Linked DNA regions of Homo sapiens. Changing the gene in region 1 together with any one later gene gives a genetic interaction. Each region holds a gene or a part of one and is shown on either strand. Other genes may lie near its edges.

Evidence for each region. A genetic interaction does not mean that the proteins touch.
Region 2: changes in SCO1 (region 1) and MAPKAP1 together harm fitness more than expected from each alone (negative genetic interaction), as found in Homo sapiens cells (one large-scale study listed by BioGRID).

The regions. Positions count from the first base shown.
Region 1 is NC_000017.11:10,694,734-10,698,876, forward strand, and holds the start of SCO1 (protein SCO1 homolog, mitochondrial), read right to left. Parts: upstream 2,801-4,143; 5' UTR 2,775-2,800; coding exon 2,502-2,774; intron 1,099-2,501; coding exon 1,008-1,098; intron 1-1,007. UniProt on the Homo sapiens protein: Copper metallochaperone essential for the maturation of cytochrome c oxidase subunit II (MT-CO2/COX2). Not required for the synthesis of MT-CO2/COX2 but plays a crucial role in stabilizing MT-CO2/COX2 during its subsequent maturation.
Region 2 is NC_000009.12:125,697,209-125,700,708, forward strand, and holds part of MAPKAP1 (target of rapamycin complex 2 subunit MAPKAP1), read right to left. Parts: intron 1-3,500. UniProt on the Homo sapiens protein: Component of the mechanistic target of rapamycin complex 2 (mTORC2), which transduces signals from growth factors to pathways involved in proliferation, cytoskeletal organization, lipogenesis and anabolic output.

The DNA.
Region 1 (4,143 bases):
TTCTAGAATTTTCCCGCCACAACTTTCCTAGCTTTTGTTTCTTTGTGAAACTAAAGAAACTTACTGCTTATTAGACTATGAAAATCTTACCCAATACTACTTATTATGCCAAAGAGTCTCATATATATGTATGTCAGTACAAAACTTAACACTGCTAAGTTCCTAAAGCCTATGAATTCCCAGATTTAATCATTAACCTTTGTATATAATGTTATCAAAAGAGACTCCAAAGAATGGAAAGATTTAAGCAATACTTTAAAGATTTACCTAAAACCTCTAAACCAAATCTTAAAAGTCCTAGGATATTCACTAAAATGCAAAGTTCTTATAAATAATTTCTAAATATTTCAAGATGCTAATCCAGAGCAGTTCCTGGCATTTCCTGACCAGGCTCTTTTCACCTCCCCCTCATCCACAGAGGGCATGCAGTATCTACTCGCACTATGCTCCTTGCCTGATCTCTAGGAAGCCTTCTCAAATCTCAAGGCTGGGACTTGCTTTTGCTCTCACAACATGGTAAGCTTCCTTCTGGCCTGGCAGAATCGCATCTAGTAAAATACTTTACTTCTGTGTCTGTTTCCCTTCCGTGTGCACCTCAAAGGCTCGACTACATCTTACTCATCTTCGTACCCTCCAGATTTCATCTTGCCCAGTCAAATCTATCCACAGTATATCTTTTAACATTGTTATGCAGTGGTATCCTAGCTTGGATCCTGGAACAAATAAAAGACATTGATAGAAAAACAAGTGAAATCCAAATACAATCTGTAATTTAATAGTTGTGTGCCATTTAAAATTTCTTAGTCATGAAAAATGTGTCATGGTTATACAAGATGTTAATATTAGGGGAAGCTGGGTGAAAGGTATGTAGAACCTATGCTATCTTTGCAATTTTTTGGTAAATCTAAAGTTGTTTCAAAACAAAAAGCTAAAAAACAACAAAAAAGGTGCTAGTCCATAGCCAGGAAGACCTTTATACAGGGCTGAGCAGATGATAATCTACTTACTCTCTGCCTTTTCTTTCTTGACGTGCTTCATTCCAGCCAGTAAAGCTCCTCCAATAGCAAATGTGATTGCTAAAGACTTCCAGGAAACAGGCTACTGGGGCAGGGATTTCAAACATAAAAATTCTAGTAAGATGCAAACATTTAACCATACAAACTTATTAAAGTAGTTTTTAATATACATACACACAGGCCATGATGTTAAATGTGCAAAATGTTTCAGGGATGAGAAAATGCTCAAAGTTTCTGTGGATGCAGTTAGGTCTGGGATCTGAACTACAAAGGCATTCATCTCCAGGGGAAAGTTCCCTAAGTCAGTTCTCTTCATGTAAATAAAAAAAAAAAAAAAAAAAAAAAAAAGCTCAAGTACCACGATTGTTACTATGTGTGACCCTAGCTCCAGTAATGACTTTAAAACCAATTATGGCCGGGCGCGGTGGGTCACGCCTGTAATCCCAGCACTTTGGGAGGCGGAGGCGGGTGGATCACCTGAGGTCGGGAGTTTGAGACCAGCATGGCCAACATGGTGAAACCCCATCTCCACTGAAAATACAAAAATTAGCCGGGCGTGGTAGCGGACCCCTCTAAACCCAGCTACACGGGAGGCTGAGGCAGGAGAATCGCTTGAACCCGGGAGGCGGACGTTGCAGTGGGCCGAGATAGGGCCACTGCACTCCAGCCTGGGCAAAAGAGCAAAACTCCGTCTCAAAACAAAAACCAAAATCCAAAAACACACACACAAAAAACAATTATCTGCTTATGCTGATACTGAGATAAATAGACCAAACGAAATTTGGGAGGTTAACTTAACTCTGGCTTCCAGAAGTAACAATGCCAAAGTAGAAGAGGAATCTAAAAGTGGAGCTTCTTGCAAATTACACCCATTATTTCTTTGTACCCTTATTCAACTCCCCAAATGAAGATGATGTTGGCCAACTAGACTAGGCCTAACTCATTAACCTTCCCGTAGCTCCAAAAACCCACTTCTCTTACCACAGGGTAGTGGCTCTCAAGTTATTTCTGGGTCAGAATTAGAACTCGAGAGAACCCCAAGAAAAAGGCAGATCCACACATAACTAAGTTCCACTTTTTGTTTCAATTTCAACGTATACATGGAACTCTGGATGGGGCTCAAGTGACAAATTATAAAAGTCCTCTGACTTCTCAATCACGGTAAACTTTAGGTTCATACCCTTAAGAAAACCTGAAACTTAATTTTTTTTTTTTTTTTGATGGAAACGCTAACATAAAATCCAAGTCGGGGCATCCAGCCACGTGGAGAGGGTGTAAAGTCTCAAGTTCTCTGTGGAGAACTGGGACTACCCGCAAGGCACGGGAAATGTAGGATGAAATTCCATGACCCAGGTAAGGCGCGCAAGCTAAGGACAACTTTAGGGGAGGCGGAGTAGTGTCTGAGGTTACGACCAAGTGGGATGTGGCCGCTGGGCTGGCCGACAGCCGCGACGAGCACCAGAAGGGTTCCAGGTGTGCACTCACCCCGGGCTTCGAGGGGCGCGTGGAGTCTCCGGGGCCCTTCTGCGACCACGGGGGTGGCGGCCTCGCAGTGCTGAGGGGCCGGGTTCCCAGGCAATAGCCAGGGCGCCCCGAGGCACGCCACGCCTCCGCTTGCCGCGCGCAGAACTGCCTCAGCAAGACTCTCGCAGTCCCCTCGGCTGGGCCCCAAAACTCGAGTCCGCGAGGCAAGAAGCGCCAAAGTTGGCCACCCAGAGGCCGCATAACTCGTCCGGGTACTAGGACCAGCATCGCCATGAGCCTCGGAGACCGGGTCTCCTTTGACCCTCCCCGCGATTTCCGGTAGCGTTCCGCTTCCTCCGGAAGTCGGAAGGAGTCGCTCTGTCCGTCCCGCTCGTTGGTGGCGCTGTTACATAGCCCGTAGTCAGAGGCCTTTCAGCCCAGGGGCCGGCGCACGGTAGGTAGTTCCCTGCGGCTGGAGGCGGGTCTGGCGCGGGCTGGGCGGTGCTGCGGGGCCGCGGGACAGCGGAGCGCCGGGAAGGGGGCTGCCTTAGGGGTCCAGGTGCGCGGCTGGGCCGAGGCAAGGCGGCCCCAAGCGCTGGGGGCCCCCGCTTTGGTCGTGGGCTTCGGTGACCACAGCTAGCTCCTCGCGCCGGGGACACCCCCACCTCGGAAGAGAGAACACACTGCCTAGAGACCCACGGGACTGGGCAGCCCCCATAACCCTACCTTGTCTGGCCGACTTTGTCAACCTCGTCCTGCCGGCCAAGAGGAAGTGCCAGAATGTTGACTCCTTTACATCTTTGAAATAGAAACCGACCCATTGCGATTGAAATAGTCTTTAACTTAAAAAAAATTGCTAATTAGGATAATTTGAGTGGTTAGGGCGGTCTGGAAGAACTTTAAATGCCCAGCGCTTCTAGTTATTTAACATTATAATGTAACCTAATTAATAAAGCATAGCAGTGTGTAAAGAAATATAGACAGCATGATATCCCATCCGTTAACTTAGTCTTCCTGGGTCCCAGTTTCTTAAAATACTCTCACGGACTCCCTTGCTCCCTACAGTTTCGTTATTTGAAGTTTGTTATGGGTTCCTCATCTGGAACTGCTTATGTTCCTTGTTAATGAGGCCAAGAGCATTCGTAGGTTTTTCGTTCTTTGTGAAAGTCTAACTTCATTTCATCTGCCTTTATTTATATCTTAATATCCGCAATATTAACCACTCCCTCCCCGCCCCTACCTCGGTGGTTGCTTTACAAAATACAGAGAAATAAAAAAAGGAAAATCGTCCTCTAATTATCTTCCTTAACTACAGATCCCGCTCCTGTGTGGCTTTTTTTTCCCCCATGGGACCGACTCTGAGTAGGAGAAACTCGTGCTCTGATGATTGTTGGACCAGAGCATGGTTGGTTTGCTTGTTTTCTATGAGTTAGCCAAACTAGCCAACTGTTCTGTTCTCTAACCCAGTAACGGAACATAGTGTTACCTGTGTTTCTTGATTCGCGGTTGGACTAGAATTTTCAGAAATTTCTGCCAAAGTTCTTAAATGTTTGTTCAGCACTTCAAGTCGTTAATCAAACTATTTTTTTCTATCTTATAGTTGCCTGTGGGTAGGATTTTTGCTCTTTTATCTTTGTGTATTTGTTTGCCCAGGGATAATTTT
Region 2 (3,500 bases), on another chromosome or scaffold:
AGAGGTGAAAACTAACTTGAAAATACAATCCATTTACAACTTCACAATCACCTGCATTAGTGAAAACTATTGGTTAAAATGATGGTCACTGACTCTACTCATATTTGTTAATATCAATTTTAAACTATGATTTATTTTTAAATAATTTGTTTATCAAAGAACATTTCTAAAACTGAGAAAAATATCAAGTCTTATAATCTCACCACCTATTTCTTTTCTTTGCATACATGTTTGACATAATTGGGACCATACTTTATAGAGTGTCATATCCTTTTTTCACTTATTATATGGTTAGCATATTAGTATGTCACTAAAATTCTTCTGAAACATCTAAGATGACTGTATATTATTTCCATTCTATGAATTTTCCATGATTTCTCTAATTTTTATTGAACATTAAGGTTCTAATTTTTGCTAAATACTGCTGCAGTGAACATCTTTGAACACGAATATCTTTCGACATCTCTGATTTCTTTAATAAAGATTCCTAGAAATGGAATTACAAGCTCAAAAGGCATGCATAACTTTTTTTAAAAGCTTGTTAATAAATACTGCCAAAGTGCTTTCCAGAAAAGTTTTACTCATTTACATTCCCACTATCAATATGAGTAACCATCTTACCATCTTACCACCAATCTTTATTATCAATGAGTATTAGTATTTTCATCAAATCCTTAAGCTTCATATCATAACACTATACCTATAATCAAACACTCTCACAATATAATCAATAATAACTTTCTGTAAACATTAAGTTTAAATGAAGGCAAAGGGCCATAATTAATGACAGTCCCAAGACAGGGCCAGTCCCAATATCCAAATCCAGAGCAGCATGGAAAAGTGACCCCCAACTCCAAAAAAAAAGTAATAGTGCTTTTCAGTACTCTGAGTCAAAACAAAGGTCAAGTCCTAGTTTTGCTACTCACGCATGCGCGTTCTCGCTCTCTCTATACGTATATACAAAAAGTATATATATATACACACACATATGTGTATATATATGTGTGTGTATATATATATTCCATCTCAAAATATATAAATATATAATTTATAAATATATATAATACATAATATATATAAATATATATATATATATATATATATATATATATATATATATATATATATAAAATATATATATTTTTTGAGATGGAGTTTCACTCTTGTCACCCAGGCTGGAGTGCAATGGCGCAATCTTGGCTCATGGCAACCTCCGACTCCCGGGTTCAAGCAATTCTCCTGCCTCAGCCTCCCGAGTAACTGGGACTATAGGCGTGTGTGTGCCACCACGCCTGGCAAATTTTTGTATTTTTAGTAGAGACAGGGTTTCGCCATGTTGGCCAGGCTGGTCTCGAACTCCTGACCTCAGGTGATCCACCTGCCTCAGCCTCCCAGAGTGTTGGGATTACAGGCATGAGCCACCGCACCCGGCCCGGTAGCTCTATATTTTTATTAATAATTACATTACTTCTCTAAGCTTCAGTTTCGGCATTTGTAAAATGGGGACGGGGATAACATAATATCCCTTTTCTAACAAAGAGCAGTTACAGGCACAAAAAAGATAATATAAACACTTGGAAGTGTTTCTTGTTACTCAGCAGATCAATTCACATAATAGCTTAAAAACAGCATCCTAAAGTCCTTCTCTCAATACAGTATGTAGGTGCACTAATTTACAAAACACAACAGAAATTAACAAATTTCATGATCCAGACATGAAAATGAGTCTCACTCTTTTATGACCACTCCATCAAATCATTGCTTATTACATCATATTAACATCCTGAATGTCTTATGCCCTGAATGCCATTAGAGGTTGGCATCCCTTATCTAAAATGCTTGGGACCAGAAGTGTTTCAGACTCTGGATTTTCTTTGAATTTTGGAATATTTTCATATATATCATGCAGTATCCTGGGGATAAGACACAAGTCTAAACACGCAATTCACTTATATTTCATATACACTTTACACACATAGCCTGAAGGTAATTTTATACTAACTTTTTTTTTCTTTTTTGAGGCAGGGTCTCCCTCTGTCATCCAGGCTGGAGTGCAGGAGCACAATCATGGCTCACTGCAGCCTTGACACCCCGGGCTCAAACGATCCTCCTGCCTCGGCCTCCCAAGTAGCTGGGACTACAGGCACACACCACCACACCAAGCTAATTGTTTTGATTTTTAGTAGAGACAAGGTCTTGCTGTGTTGCCCAGGCTAGTCTCTAACTCCTGAACTCAAGCAATCCTCCCACCTTGGCCTCCCAGGATTGCTGGTTATGAGCCACCTCACCCAGCCAGTATTTTTAATAATTTTATGCATGAAATAAAGTTTTAACTGCAACCTGTCACATGAGGTCAGGCATAGAATTTTCCAATTGTGGCATCATGTCAGTTCGAAAAGTTTTGAATTTTGAAGGATTTTTGATTTTGATTTTTTTTTTTTTTTGAGACAGTCTTGCTCTGTTGCCCAGGCTGGAGTACAGTGGTGTGATCATGGCTCACAGCAGCCTCAGCCCCCTGGGCTCAAGCAATCCTCCTACCTCAGCCTGGAACTACAGATGTGCGCCACCATGCCTGGCTAATATTTTTGTAGAGACAGGGTTTCATTATTTTGCCCAGGCTGCTCTTGAACTCCCAAGCTCAAGCAATCCACTCATCTTGGCCTCCCAAAGTGCTGGGATTAAAGGTGTGAGCCAGCAAATCTGGCCCAGATTTTGAATATTTTGAGTAGGGATGCTCAGCCTGGACCTGCATCTCTCCAGAAGCACTACAGTACTTACAAGGTACTTACATATATTGTTTCATTTAGTCCTCACTAAGGACTATGTGAGATTGGCATTACTGTCCCCATTTTGCAGACTGTCCAGCTTACAGACTGACAAAGCCAATAATCAAATCCAAGCGGGTCTGCCCAAAGCCCCATGTCACACTGCTTAAAATTCAAGTCTGCACTTCAGTTCTTCGTTAGTCTCCTTTATGTCAGTAACTAAGGTTCAGATTAAATACTCGCTTTATTTTCAAAAGAAAACCATTCCTTCAAACAATTTTCTACCAATTTCTCTGCTGAAATGGTACTTATTTATAACACAGTACCTTAAAATGAGTCCATAAGGAACTGGAAAATGTTATTTTTTTTGAAGTTTTACACATTCAGTACACTTTGCATCAATAATAAAAGTATATTCATAAAAGTATACTCACGTATAGGATATTAAGAATCTAACACTGCTTATATTTAGGCATAAATGTGACATAATATTCCACTTATTTCACAAGCAATTACTATAACTTAATTCCAATAGTTATTCTAATACCTTCTTGTTCTTTCTAGAGTTTCGGGTTTGTTTTTTAAGTGGTTTCTCCCATTTTTCTCACTTTCAATTACATAAAACTGTATTCTACTTTCAGTCCAAATTTTGTGTTGCCTATATTAAATCCATTTCCCCAATATATCTAGACTGCTGCCAACTAGAGTTAATAAATTTTGAATGACTGCTCAGGA